4 linked regions of the Homo sapiens genome follow. The protein of the gene in region 1 purifies or fractionates together with the protein of each later gene. This does not show direct contact. Each region holds a gene or a part of one and is shown on either strand. Other genes may lie near its edges.

The links.
Region 2: the proteins of FER (region 1) and ARHGAP23 purify together in Homo sapiens (affinity purification with mass spectrometry, with the first as the bait; one large-scale study listed by BioGRID). This does not show direct contact.
Region 3: the proteins of FER (region 1) and DNM1 fractionate together in Homo sapiens (co-fractionation; one study listed by BioGRID). This does not show direct contact.
Region 4: the proteins of FER (region 1) and DNAJC1 fractionate together in Homo sapiens (co-fractionation; one large-scale study listed by BioGRID). This does not show direct contact.

The regions. Positions count from the first base shown.
Region 1 is NC_000005.10:109,188,202-109,192,085, reverse strand, and holds part of FER (tyrosine-protein kinase Fer), read right to left. Parts: 3' UTR 1-3,884. UniProt on the Homo sapiens protein: Tyrosine-protein kinase that acts downstream of cell surface receptors for growth factors and plays a role in the regulation of the actin cytoskeleton, microtubule assembly, lamellipodia formation, cell adhesion, cell migration and chemotaxis.
Region 2 is NC_000017.11:38,431,383-38,435,266, reverse strand, and holds part of ARHGAP23 (rho GTPase-activating protein 23), read right to left. Parts: intron 1-3,884.
Region 3 is NC_000009.12:128,216,879-128,220,378, reverse strand, and holds part of DNM1 (dynamin-1), read right to left. Parts: intron 2,149-3,500; coding exon 2,075-2,148; intron 1,798-2,074; coding exon 1,648-1,797; intron 1,331-1,647; coding exon 1,127-1,330; intron 392-1,126; coding exon 293-391; intron 199-292; coding exon 38-198; intron 1-37. UniProt on the Homo sapiens protein: Catalyzes the hydrolysis of GTP and utilizes this energy to mediate vesicle scission and participates in many forms of endocytosis, such as clathrin-mediated endocytosis or synaptic vesicle endocytosis as well as rapid endocytosis (RE).
Region 4 is NC_000010.11:21,920,024-21,923,907, forward strand, and holds part of DNAJC1 (dnaJ homolog subfamily C member 1 precursor), read right to left. Parts: intron 941-3,884; coding exon 775-940; intron 1-774. UniProt on the Homo sapiens protein: May modulate protein synthesis.

The sequences.
Region 1 (3,884 bases):
GTGGCTAAGTGATTCCTAATGCCTACACTAAAAGTTCAGAATTTAATTTCTGAATCGGTATGAGGCAGGAGGATGGCTTTTAATGGGGTAGTATTTCATTAAATTGAATTATGGCTAAGGTATAGTTTATACACCTTCTGTAGGACAGCATTTTTTTTAAAGGGGAATTTTTGGGACTCTAAGAGTGTAGCAAAATCTCCTTCAAGTAGGTCATTCTTGGTACATGAAATCCTGACTTTTAAAATCAGTATCTTCATATGTGGTTTTGGATTCTTCCAAAATATAGTATTCAGACTTGATGTGAAACTAATCAAAACATAGAAAAATAAATGAAATTAAAATATTTAATGAATATCATTCTGATATGTATAAGCAAATCAGAGTTAGTCATAAAAGAAGTAACGCTATTTTGATGGTAAACTTTCACACTGACTTAGTATAATGGAAATGTAATATAAACTCATTTCCATACAAAATCTGATTCCATTTAATTAAGATATTAATACCTAAAGAAAACATGTCTTTTCCAACTGTCTGTCTCTCTGCTGCTTATTTTGCACTGTTCTGTTTTGTGGGAGGGTGTGGCTTCCTAAATGCAAAAGCAAGTCTTGCGATGACTCAGCACTAACCAGGGCAGCCAATTTTGTTGATAAGAAACATCTAAAATATCAATGATAAATGGAGTATACGTAAAAAGAAGAGGGCTGAGGCAAACAATGCTTTTTCAGAAAATATCAAACTTCAAAAGATGCATGGCCATTAAACAGTGTACACAGTATACTAAGTAAGGTTTTCAGGTACATTCCTACATCTGATGACTCACCAGAATTAATTATAAAGTGGTGTGACTGAAAGAACCCTGAAAAACTGTGACTTATGATTCAGATATTTGTATTGTTACATTATAATTTATTTGGATTGTTGCATTTTAATTTTTGTTTATCCCACTACAAGGTCCTCAGTGGGTGGCGTATGTTGTAACTAAAACACTTTCTTCTTGACATAATCTAACACTAGTATTGTGAAGCCATAGTTATTTTGTGGTACTAGCCAATCTTCACAAAAGTTATATGGGAAAACTGAACTGAATATAATATAGATAGAAAAACCAAATTATGGTTTAAAGGAAATTAAAACTATTTCAATTACAAAACATTTTTTCTTCTCAAAATAATCCTAAAATGAAAAACAACTGTGAAATGTGCACTGAAAATATCTAACACAGTTAGGCTCCTGGTCTATACTTATCTGCTAATAAGATGTTTCAGTAATATCGTATTTGTAATAAAACAGTGAATTACGAAAGGAGAATTTTATTGCCCACATTAAATTTGGGAGATAAAAGAGAAACAATTACATGAGACCTTTCACTGGAGACCTCTCACTGGAGACCTCATGGCAGGACAGGCTGAAATAAAGCTTCAGTTTCTGAAGTTTAAACAAAACCTGTCAATTTTATTTTCCCAGAAGAGAAAGAATATGTTGGCTTTGGCCTTAGATTACATGGAATGCAAAATTAATTTTAGGTTTCACATGTTGGTAATAAATGTTAATTTAACAGTGAAAAATTTCTTTCCTTGTGAAATGATGAACAACCTAAACTGTCTCATAAAGGCCCCTTAGTGACCAGTGAGACACAGACTGCTTGTGTTTACCTCCCCCTTTTAATAAATTTAAGGACTTATGAGAGGAACTATGCAGTAGTAAGAATATATATATATATCTTGAATAATCCATTAACAACACAAAGATTTGTGACTGGACTAATTACATCCGGACCAGAAGAAATTTTGGTTACAACTCTTTTCTTACTAAACAAATCACAGGATTTTGTACATTTCTGAATCTTCCTTTCCCTACATCAACTTGCACATTCTGAACAGTATGTTCGTGCTTCCTGGGCATGGATTAGCCTCCTAAAGTATATAATTCCAATAATTAATTATCAGTGACAGAAGGGATGAATAAATTATGCTTCAAGCACAACAAAATTAACAGTGAAAAACTGTTTGCGTAAGTTTTTCTTAATGCATGTGACTATATTAAATTTAATATTCTATATGACTGAGAGACTCCCAATAAGTTATTAATCCTGAACTATACCACTGCCTGCTTTAGGACAAAGAATAAAATGGAATTTAAATGCTACACATGTCACGATGTTTTGAAAAGCTTTTTAAATTTAAGCACAGAGTAATGATGTGAACTGCAAATTCTAACAGCCTGGATAAGTGAAATATCAATGCTGTGTTCATTCTTAACACCAGAATGTCAGGATTAAGCTTTAGGTCTTGTTCATAAAACTAAAGCCAAAACCATCATTCTCTCTCCTTGCTGAGAGCTTAGCATGAAGCCACTATGAGATGGGAGGCTGTTTTCTTTAAACAGACAAAGAATATTACAGAGATTCACTTAGAAATACTAAAAAAAAGGGTAGGAATATCCCATTTTACTCTTACTTTTGAAGGTTGGTAAGTGCCTCAATACCATAGCACTTCTGAGTTTGCGCTTTGATTTACCATAGTACGTGCCATCAAAAGAAATTTCCCTTTAGTCTGAATGTACTAATCATTAAGTATGTATGAAATCTGCAAGGAGATTGAAATGTTAGATACAAGTCACTTTTCTCTTCAGTATTATCTTTCATACTCTAAAGTACTGGTGTGAGTTCTGTGCGATGGTACAGGCAGCAAACAGCTGGAGAGGGCAGGAGGCATTTTCTATCCCTAAGCTCTTCCAATGAATGCAGACCAAATAATCACTAAGGTAATGTTTACCAGGACACAGGCCTGAGAACTTATAAAAGGCTTCCAGAACATATTTAGCCCTGAGCATGACCATCTTCTATATATGCATTTATCCTGAGAGGCAACTATATACAGATCATGGGGTAAGTAAGTAAGTTCCCTAGATAAGAGTTAAGATACAGAATCCTAGTTTTAACTGAGTGAGTGAGTTACATTTTATTCACATGAGACATCTTCAGCACTCTGCTTGCATACCTGTCAGCTAATGGTAAGAATGTCCAGGGGGCAGTATAATGGTCAATGAAGGTGGAAGTAGAAATGGGAGGGCTGTCCCTATGTCATATTTCTCATTAATATTCACCTGACTTCTAGACTGTCTACTTCATTCACATCTGTCTTGCACCTTGGTGGTGTGTGTGCACGCGCATGTACACACGTGAATGTGTTGGTGAACTAGAATCATGAAATTCTGACAGCTCTAAAAACTGGTACAAATAAAGGAAATTACATTTTGGAATGCCCCCTCTAAGGTGAAAATGCTTAACTGAAAGTATGCTGTTATTTCTGTGGATTTGTGCTTTGCAGTTTCTCTCAAAATTTTTGTTGCCATTACGAGGACTCTACGAACTCCTGAAACTTTTCTTAGGACCTTTCTGGTAAATTCAGACCATAAAATAGAATATGTATTATTATGTGTTTTTAGAATAGAATATGTGAATGTTTGTTTGTTTAGATGTTTAGAAAGGCATAACTCTGATAAGGTGGTTTTATATTTTCACTTTCTTCTTTACTCTGTTAATCATTCTTTAGCTGCTCTGTTCTCCAGCCCACCCTCCTGTTCAAATCTGTTTCTTGCTTCACAGCTCTCTGTACATCCTTGAAAAGCAACTGCCTCAACTCTAACTTTGACGACGTTTCATGCGTTGTGTGTGTGTTTCTTTTTTTTTTTTTGGTAGAGACAGGGTTTCACCATGCAAGCCAGGCTGGTCTCGAACTCCTGACCTCAGGTGATCCGCCTGCCTCAGCCTCCCAAAGGAGGGAGGGGGCTGGGCACTGTGGCTCACGCCTGTAATCCCAGGCATGAGATTACATGCCTGGGATTACAGGCGTGAGCCACCGTGCCCGACCTACGTGCAT
Region 2 (3,884 bases), on another chromosome or scaffold:
CTCCTGTCTCAGCCTCCCGAGTAGCTGAGACTACAGGTGTGAGCCACCATAGTCCCTACAGTTCCAACCACACAGGGCTGGCTTCCTTCCACTCTTGCTGGTCCCTTCCTCTCTGCTCTATCCCCTTGGCCTGTCCCTTCTCTAGGCCTCAGTTTCCCCATGAGGCAAATGGAGAGACAGGGAAGGAGGGTGGCCTCTGATATTCCTCCAGCTGAAGCAAAGGAAGATGTCCCCTCTCTGGGTAGCTTTCCTCCTCCTTCTGTCCCTTTTCAGGAACAATACAGAGTTCCTCCACCTTGAGCATAAGGGAGACTCTATGCGGGAGGTGGGGGTGTCCCCTCCAGCCTCTCCTTCCAGCCTTCGGGGGCTCTCAGAAGCAGGAAAAGCTCTGGATTGCCCAGGTCCCCACCTCTCCCTCCTCCCAAGAGCTCTGAGTCTGGCGTCCACACCCGATTCTTTCCAAGCTCTCACACTTTTGGGGAAATTAAAAAGGAAGAAGCAGCTGTTGATACAGGAGCACAGAGCCAGACAGAAGTCAGATAGGAGACAGAAACACTCTCGGGCCAGAATGAACTCGGCCCCTGCCTAGGTGCACCCCCACTTGGGGCTAAGGCCCCTTGCGTGGTTGTCCTCCCACATGGCTCCCACGCGGTCTCCCAGCCCACCACATTCCTCCGGCCCACACACCTCCGACCAACCTCCACACCCCAAGAGGCCAAGGCCGGGTCTGTTTCTATCCCTCAGGCCTCGGCCCTTGGGTCTCAGTCATCCCCACGCCCCGCCCCATGCTGTCTCTCCTCCCAGGGATTCAGGCCGAGCTTTGAAAGGGTCACTTCAAAGAGGACCTGCCTTCCGAGGGCCTAGCCAGACCCAGGGCCAGCTCCTCGGCCAGATTCCCAGCGGTTGGGGACAAAGGCCCCACTGTTCCCCGACCCCCGGACGCCCCCAAATGCACTGGGCATAAGAAGTCTTTCTTTCCCCAGTTCCGCTCCTTACGGGCCCGGGCTCCTTGCCACCGGGAGTAGCCCTGGCTCCTCCTCCAGGAGAAGCTGGGGGGTTGGCGGGACAGGGAATTACTAGTTTCCCCACTGCCACCACCATACACCCAAACCCCTTGGGCACCCAGGATGATGACAAAATCCAGCCAGGCGCGGTGGCTCACGCTTGTAATCCCAGCACTTCGGGAGGCCAAGGCAAGTGGATCACCTGAGGTCAGGAGTTCGAGACCAGCCTGGCCAACATGCCAGCCAACATGCCGAAACCTTGTCTCTAAAAAAATAAAAAAAATTAGCCAGGTGTAGTGGCACACCTGTAATCCCAGCAGCCCAGGAGACTGAGGCACGAGGATGATGACGCAACCCCGGGGCCAACCTCAGGACCAGTGGCCCAGGCTCCTCTCTGTCCCTCGGCCACCAAGCCCTTCCTGGGCCTAGAATACAATCCCACATTTTCCCACCTATCAGAACCATACCCACCCTTGCAGGCCTCCTCCAGGCAGCCTCTCAGGACTACCTATCCTCTGGGGAGCCTCACAGTCCAAACCATAGCAGCCAACCCCTGATGTTCCCAGAGGCTGGGGACATCTCTGCCTGCTCTCCTCAATGCCCCACAGTAGGAAGTAGGATTCACCTGCTCCTCTAATTTCCTATCATATAGTGCTGATCCCAAGGCAGGGCCCTTAAAGTTTCCTGTGCCAAGCCTTTGCTGAATTCTCTCTAGTGCACATCATTCTCCAGCCTGTGCTTGCCCAGACCTCACTGCACCTCCAGTGATGGGGGCCTCATTACCTCCAGAGGCAGGTCACTTTCTCTTTAGATTGCTCTGACCATAAAGGTCAGTACTTTTTACTGAGGCAAAAGTGCATTGTTCTCATTTCTATCCATTGATTTTTTTTAATAATAGTTGCTACCAATAATTGAGATTACTAAATCTCAGCCACTTTACCAATACTACCTCATTTAGCCCTCTCTGTAATTTTGAGGGATTATTTCAGGGATAAGAAAACCAGCCAGGTGTGGTGGCTCACACCTGTAATCCCCGCACTTTGGGAGGCCAAAGTGGGAGGATCACTTGAGTCCAGGAATTTTGAGACCAGCCTGGGCAACATGGCAAAACCCTGTCTCTATAAAAAATACAAAATGGAAAAATTAGCTGGGCATGGTGGCATGCACCTGTAGTCTCAACTACTCAGGAGGCTGAGGAGGGAGGCTCACTTGATCCCAGGAGTTCAAGGCTGCAGTGTACCAAGCTCACACCACTGCACTTCAGCCTGAGCAACAGAACAAGACCCTGCCTCAAAAGAATAAAAGAAAGCCGAGGCTAAAACAATGAAGTAACTTGTCCAAGGGCACACAGTGAACAAGGAGTACATCTAAAATTTGGACCTCAGCAGGCTGAAGGCAGGCAGAGCTTTTTTGTTTCGTTTGGTTTGGTTTTTTGAGACAGGGTCTCATTATGTTGCCCAGGCTGGAGTGCAGTGGTGCAATCACAGCTCACTGCAGACTCGAACCCCCCAGCTCAAGTGATTTTCCCACTTCCACCACCCGAGTAGCTGGGACTACATGCCCAGCTAATTTTTTTTTTTTTTAAGACTACATTTTGCTCTTGTCACTCAGACTAGAATGCAATGGCGTGATCTTGGCTCATTGCAATCTCCCTCTCCCAGGTTCAAGCGATTCTCCTGCCTCAGGCTCCCAAGTAGCTGGGACTACAGGTGTGTGTCACTTCACCCAGCTAATTTTGTAATTTTAGTAGGGACAGTGTTTCACCATGTTGGCCAGGCTGGTCTCAAACTCCTGACCTCAGGTGATCCACCCGCCTTGGCCTCCCAAAGTGCTGGGATTACAGGTGTCAGCCACTGCTCCTGGCCCCAGCTAATTTTTAAAATTTTTCTGTAGGTATTGGGTCTCCTTGTGTCACCCAGGCTGGTCTCAAACTCCTGAGTCCAAGTGATCCTCCTACCTTGGCCTCCCAAAGTGCTGGGATTACAGGTGTGAGCCACTGTACCCGGCCTGTGTCAGTTTCTTAATCTGTCAAGTGGGGTGATGGTAATATACCAACATAGTGGTAAGCACTATGGAAGAAGTTGCTATTATCATTTTTCTCGGCCTCAAATAACTCCTACCTGGTAGGGTAGACGGATATGAGATGGAACATCACAGTGTCAGGGGTAGAGCTGGGCATGGGGCGCCCTGGGGGGCCACAGGCGGGGCTGTTCCCTGGTTTGTACTTCACAAACATTTATGGAGAACTGCTCTGTGCCAGGCTCTGTGCTGGCCACTGGGGACACAGAGATGAACAGGATACATTGTCCACTCATCCCTGCAGCTCCCTGCCCTCCCCTCTCCCTCTTGGAGCCCAGTCCATGAACCCTGCACTGAGGGGGGCCACGAAGGACAGAACCAACCACAGAGGGAAAGGCATGGCCTGGGAGCTGGGAGTCAGAAGATGGGTCCTTGTCTGCCGAGGCTGAGGGACCTTGGGCACTCCCCAGTCTGTTTCCCCACTGTAGCGTAACAGAGTTGGACACGATCACCCCTTTGGTCCTCACCCACTCTGACAGGTGGTAAATACACCCCAACCCAAAAGGGCTTTAAAATCTCCCCAAAGTCCAGCCCCAAGGCCATCTCAGCCTGATGTCCCACTGAGGCAATGGGGGAGGAGACACCCACCTGGCACAGATTGGTACTGCCCTGCTGACAAACTGGCACAATTTCACAAGAAACAGGGGGGCCTGGATCTGAAGGCGGGTTGTTTGAAGCGGGTGGAGGGTGCTAGGGGAAAGGCAGCACCAGCTCCCACAGGCCCTATTCATGTCTCTCTCCCGAGATGGTGAGAGCAGGATCATTAAAACCAGGCTTTGTCCAAATCCCTGACCAAGCCAA
Region 3 (3,500 bases), on another chromosome or scaffold:
TTGTTTCCCCAGGCCCCATCCTGGCTTGGTCGCCTACCTGATTGAGGACCTTCTGCAGGTAGGGCGTGCCCATACGGTCAGCCAAGTGGCGATAAGATGGATGGGAGAGGAAGAACTTTCGTTCAGCAGCCAAGGCGGCGGTAATGTCCTTCTTGCCATCAATGTCCTTCTGGCTCCGGTTCACCACTCCAATGTAGCCTGTGAACAGTATCAAGGTCAGGGCAACCAGCCTCAAGAGGAGGGGAAGGGTGGGGAAGGGCTGGGGAGTGGTTGAGGGGCATGGCCTGCTTACCTCTGCGCAGGGGGAGCAGCTTGTTCTCCAGCACATCACGGGCATCTGTGCCCTCGTCCATCAGGTCCAGCTTGGTGATGACCCCGATGGTGCGCTGGCCTGGGTGCACCAGCAGGAGGGCCGTCTACAGCTGCACCCGCTCTCACACACAATTCCATGCACTCCCACTCCCATCCCCCTGCTCTCCTCGGCCCCCTGCCTGCTCACTGCCTCCTCTCTTTCCCCCTTATTCATTTTCCACAGAGTAGCCAAAATGATTTTTATTTATTCTTCTTGTTTTTTTATTTGTTAGAGATGGGATCTCGCTTTGTTGCCAGGCTGGTTTCCAACTCCTGGCTTCAAGCGATCCTCCCAAGTTGGCCTCCCAAAGTGCTGGGATTACAGGCATGAGCCACTGCACCCAGCCTTTTTTTCTTTTTTGAGACAGGGTCTCACTCTTGCCCATGCTGGACTGCAGTGGTGCGAGTAGGGCTCACTGCAGCCTCAACCTCCTGGGCTCAAGTGATTCTCTGGCCTCAGCCTCACGAGTAGCTGGGACCACAAGCGTGCACCACGGTGCCCGGCTAATTTTTAAATTTTTTGTAGAAATGGGGTCTCACTAGGTTGCCCAGCCTTGTCTCGAACTCCTGGGCTCAAGCAATCCTCCCGGCTTGGCCTCCCAAAGTGCTGGGATTACAGGCATGAGCTACCATGCCTGACCCCCAAAGTGATTTTTAAAGGTACAAATCTGATCCCACCGCTATTCTTAGACCGTTCAGAGGCTCCCCTTTACACTAAGAATAGACAGCCTGCAAGCCTGGGGTTTTGTGCATTGGCCACCGGGTGGGAACCTACCCTGGGGGTCCACCTCCTTGGCGACCTTGAGGGCGTCAGAATTGGCCAGGTCAGAGTTGGCGGGGGACACGGCCAGGATGAGGCAGTTCTCCTTGGTGACAAACTGCATAAGCATGTCTCGGATCTGGAACTCGATGTCGGGAGGTTGGTCCCCCACCGGGACCTTGGTCATTCCGGGCAGGTCCACCAGGGTCAGGTTCAGCACTGGACAGGGCGGCGAGAGGGCGGGCTCAAGGCGAGGGGCGTGGCCGCGGGCGAGGTTAAAGAATAGGGCGGGGTTAGAGAAGCTGCTTGGGAGCAGGGTGGCAGGTGGGTGGGACTAGGAAATCTCAGGGCGAAAGTGGCAGTCTGTTGGAGGCGTGGCCGGAAGTGGGCGGAATCACGGCAGGGTGGAGCTTGGAATAGGATGATGCAGAGGCAGGGTCATTCTAGGGGCGGAGTCTGCAGGAGGAGCGAGGCACGCAGAGGTGCGTGGCCAAGAAAATGATTCTTAGAGGTTAGGGCGGGGCCAGGGTCCTCACCGTGCGGCGAGTAGACGCGGAGGTTGATAGGCACCGGCGAGATGCCCTTGTTGGTGCCGGTGACCCTGTCGGTCTCGGCCTCGATCTCAAGGCGCACCTCCTCGAAGTCGGTGAATTTCTTTCCCTTGCAGTGCAGGAACTCGGCATATTCTGCTCCAGAAGCGGGCAGGGGAAGGGCAGTAGGCATCAAGGTCTGGAACCCCACCTGGGGGTTTTCATCTCCCACCGGTAATAGAACCCCCTAGACACACCCAAGCAGAACCACCACCCACGTCTCCATTATGTATTTTGATCCCCGCTATCCCTAAGGGGAACGAGGCCCACAGTCACACAGCAAGCAAGTTCGTGGCCAGGCTGGCCCTCAGCTTGGGGACGGGGGAGAGGCTGGAGTGGGCAGGCCTGGCTGCTGGTGAAGGAGGGCACGTACCTGTGGTTGCATTGACCAGCTGCAAGACCAGGGGACGTCGGGTGACAATGCCAGATCCTCGAGGCAAGAAGTCCCTGCAATGAGTTGGAGGTCAAAGGAGGGTCAAGATATGAGGGGGCGCCCTCTGTCCCAGGGGTACCTGTCCGGCCCCTGGGAAAGCCAAAGCTCCTTCCAAAGTGCTGGCTCCACCGCTCCTTAGCCCAGGGGCTTCAGGTAACTAAGAGCATATGGCAGCCCAGAAAGGTGGAAAATACTTTTCCTCAAGTCGCCTGGGTCACAGAATTTATGCATCTGAGCTGCCAAGAGACTGGATCAACTCCTAGATACGTCCTGTGTTGGTTTTGAACCAATAGGAAGTCCCTGCCCCAACTCAGCCACGGCCATTCAGCCCCAGAAAACTGAGGCATGGGGTCTCCCACATGCCTATGTGTCCAATGCCCACAGAGTGGATCCCAGGAAACAGAGCTGTAACTTCTCCCCTCCCTTCCGCTGTGGGGCAGGGCAGCATCTCACTTCCCCTTCTCCAGGCTCCATATGGCTAGGGTTGAAGAAGAGTGGGGAAGGAGGTGGCAAGGAAAAGGACTCATGGGCCGGGCGCGGTGGCTCACGCCTGTAATCCCAGCACTTTGGAGGCTGAGGCGGGCGGATCACCTGAGGTCAGGAGTTTGAGACCAGCCTGGCCAACATGGTGAAACCCTGTCTCTACTAAAAATACAAAAAAATTAGCCGGCGGGGTGTCAGGCACCTGTAATCTCAGCTATTTGGGAGGCTGAGGCAGGAGAATTGTTTGAACCCGGGAGGCGGAGGTTACGGTGAGCCAAGATCGCGCCATTGCACTCCAGCCTAGGCGACAAGAGCAAAACTCCACCTCAAAAAAACCCACAAAGAAACAAAAAAACTCATGCTTCTTAGTGCCTACTGCATGCCAGGCGCTTAGTGGGGCTCCATACTGTAGCCCCATGAGGCAGGTGCTGTTATTACCCCCATTTTGCAGATGAGGGAGCTGCACCTTAGAGACATTCAGGTTGCACAGCCAGTATCTGGCAGAGCAGACCCTGGTCTCGGATATATTTGACTCTGCAGTGACACTCCCCTGCCCTTCAGCCCCCTGTGAACCGAGCCGCCTTTGAAGGACTGGACTGAGAGGTCCCAAAGTCATCCCCCGTCCCCAGACCTGACAGTCTATAGCTTAGACATCTGCTCGTGCCAATGTCAACCTCAGCTGTCCTTTTGGCTGACTCTTGTGGGTGCCGGTTCTCTGTCCAGTCAGCTCTTTTCATCCACCTCCCTCTGCACCACCCTCCAGCTGGCGCAAGCACAAGGGTGAAGGCCTCTCCAGGAATCAGGATGTCAGAATTGCCAGTCATGGGATCTCCAGGGCCCAGGAAAGGGGGGAACAGGTTGAAGCCCGAGGGACCATTGAGAC
Region 4 (3,884 bases), on another chromosome or scaffold:
GAACATTTATGCAAATGTATGTAGGGTCCAACATGATTAAGTAAAATCATCAATCTTTCACAATAACTGTTGCCATGGTATCCAGGCCTTAAACACACATGAAGTTCAGGACTGTCAGTCATGTGCATCTCCATAGCAATCAAAGTTTTCTAAGAAGAGAAAGCATTCAACTCACTTTTTCTCATTCATCCAACTTTAATAATGTCACTTCAAAAGGAATGAGTAAACAGATGCTAATTCATGAATACTGATAAATATGTTTGATTATCTTTAACATATAAATAAAAACCCAAAGAATAAACTATAGAGTAGCATATTAAACCAAGAAAAGTGTAATAATTTTTTTAACCAATTGAAGTTAGAATATTATATTCATTTCCAATTTTATTTATTTACCTAAAACATTTTAAAAGTAAACATTCATTATATAAAGGCCTGTGACACAAAAAAATCTAAAATCAGTCTTAAATAAAAAATATTTCTATTTGGAAGGTGATAATGAAAACATGGCTCTACCTTCTAATTCCCAGCTAGATATTTGGGCTTTCACAAAGTTTTATAACAAACTTAAGTGCCACATTTTTTAAAAGAAGAATATTTTCTTATTTCATGGGTTCTTCTTGACTTAGAAATATGTCAAACATTGAGTATAAAACTATTAGAATGAGAAGTATACAGAGAGAAACAGAAATTTTCATCAGTTGAAAAATAAATGTCCAAAATTCCATATAAAATTAAGGAGGCTAGTTCATTTGATTTATTACTAACACTTACCAGTTGTTTTTCCAGGTAGATTGACCAAACCACAGCATAATGACCCACTGTGAGAATAATGAACAAGAGTAATGCCAGCTCAGCATTGCTCATTTTTCTCACCCGCCTGTAGTAGAATACAGGCTGTCGCCAATCTGGAAGTCCATTGATCAGAATATCATCATACCTACAGTACAAATATAACAGTTTTTCACGGGGAGTTTAAAATAAAAACAAAAAAAACTATTTGTGCCTATATTACAAAAAGGAAAAAGAAAACAAATTATCCAAAATAGATAATGTTTATGTACGTTCCCAGCATTATAATATCGAGTAAATTCAAAGCACTGTAGATAGCTCTAGTCACTGACACCCTTCAAAAAAGTGTCCAGTAATATACTGTGGATACCAGATCTCATGTTTTTACAGCACCCAAAGATGTGACTCCTGGAGTGACATCTAAACTAAAGGAGCTACGTGTAGTCTACCTGTCTACTAGTCTATAGTAAAGACTCTACCATTGAAGTCAGCAACAAAAAGGAGGATCTCAATAGGAGAAAGATCAAGATAAGAGCTGTTTGTTACCGTGAATTACATATTAATTGAATCAAATTCAGAATAAATTTTCTAGTCAGTGCTTTTATGTCTACCCCTAAACTACGGTGGCTCAAGGCTGAAGTATTTATACACATGATTTTATCAAAGCTTTTTAATGAGGTAAAAGCCTATAAAATTGAGTGTCTTTTAATTTTGTATTGCTATATTCCTTTAGAAAATAAAAAACTCCCAAATTAAAAAGAGATGTGGTAACAACCAGTGTTTATGTTGGATTTCTCAATAAAACTGTTTATTTGTAAACAATTAAGTGGCAATTTCCTCATTTTTGGCTTTTGCTGGAAGAGAAGAACATTAACAAGTAAAAGCTTTCCTAGTCCTTTAAAAAGCTGATGCATTTTAAATCAGCTTTCTTGGTACTATCAGGATAAAAAAGTTACTTTAAAATAAATTTTCAACTCAATTTAAATTTACTTGTCAGACAATCATTGAACAAATATCTTTGAGGTTAAAAATAAGGAGTAACATTTATGACTGTAAAACTCAAAATGGTCACATACAAACACTGTGTGTTCAACACACACAACCTGTTAATTGAACACAACTCATTAAATATTCTAATCACACTATTTCCAGAATTAAATCTTCACTGAAAGGCCTAATTTGGTGCAACACATTGACCAAAATATTTTAATTAAAAATATTCTGAGTTAGTCGCAGGCCTAATTACAGGAATAGAAATAGGGCCTATATTGTCAGGCAGGTCAGTAGAACTCGGTAGTAGGTTTTTCTCAAGTAAATTGACCGATCTAGGAATAATAGCGCAGCTGCTAAACTGCCAGTCTTGACATGTAAATCAATTTAAATGCAACAACTGCAGTAGCTACTTTGATAGTTATTAAATTGATACCTTGGAGATATGCTAAAAAAATAAAGCAGAGGATTTATTACAGGCAACTTCTTTTTTCAGTAGAAAAACATCAGATATAAATGTAAAATATATTTTATTAGCAAATCTAGAAAACCTGACCTTCTGATCAACTTAGGTTATTAATAACAATATCATCAAATTGGAATAACCAATGTTGAAAGCAAAGGACATTAATTAGTACTAAACTCTTAAAAAGCAAATTGTGTAATATACAAGAGTCTACAAAGTAATGTATGGTTTGGCAGTAGCTACACCAGAAAAATTTGGTGCTATTCTTTTTCAATGTTTATCGAAATTCTTGAATATTAACATCAAGATATAATAATATGACTTCATAAAAACTATCATTCATGTTATCAAAAATTTATGTTTAAATCTATCTTATAAATACTGATTCATTTTAAATGAGAAAATGTATAGGTAAAAAGGTTTCAAGTGCTCTAACATAAGATTACAACATTCAAATGAAGTCCAATCAACCTTAAGTCCTGAATCTATTCTCAATCCACATTCTACTTCAGATTTGTTGAGGGAGAAAAAAGGTGAATATAGAAATCATCATTTTCAGCAAACCTCTCCCATGAAATAACTTCAGGTAAAAAGTATAGTTATTGATAAAGAACATCTAAGAAAATGGAGACAATTCCCTAATAGCACTCTTAAGTATTAAATTTGCTTTGGGTATAACTAAACTATAGCAGAAGAGAAAACAGCTGAACTCATAGCTAAGAATCTCTTATCAAATATTTTATCACCATCATAACTGAAAGTGCTATGTGTCTGTTAATAGCTACTATTTTCTACCCTACGTACAAATTGTATTTGGTGTACAAATTCAAGATAGCAAAATCTCATGCACTGAACACATTAAACAGAACTAGATATTTACTAGCCTATGTCTGTCACTCTAAACAACAGTCTCTAAGGATTAAGCTTAGAATCAATGCTCTATTGATTTTACTATCAATGAACTATATTATAGCTCACACGACTGGCCATTTTAAGGAAAGATAGCTTCCATTATAGTTCATTTTTTAGAATATATGCTGTTAAAAGATAAATCACTGCTTTCTTGATGAAACATTGAAAATACATTTCTTACCAAAGTACACACAGACACTTTTCATAAGTTATTTAAGAAGAAATACTGTGTTGACAACACATAAAATTTAAAACATCACTGTATTAGGCTTTTCTATATTTAAACATATAACACTGTTAAAATGCTCTGTATTTGGGATTCATACAAACTGTTCTCAACTATTTATTAAAGCCAGATTAAGAATGTATAAATGTATGTGTTGTAAGATATAAAGAAAGAAATCTCTATGATAAAAAATATCACTAATGCTAAAAATCATAGGAAATTATAATGGCATTTTCTTGGAAATGAAAACATTAATCAATTCCACATATCCAACATATGGCCTAATGTGTGTTTATTTCACTTGATTTTCTTAAAATATACATCAAGAACATAAAATAATGGTTACATACTCATTAGTGAGTTTTATACTATAATCTGCAATTCATCAAACATATTTAGGCTAATACAAACACTGAAAAACAAATCTAAAATTTTTTCAAGTTACCAGCAGAAAAATGTACAGAAATTTAAAACGTTACAATTTTTTGAAATATAAAA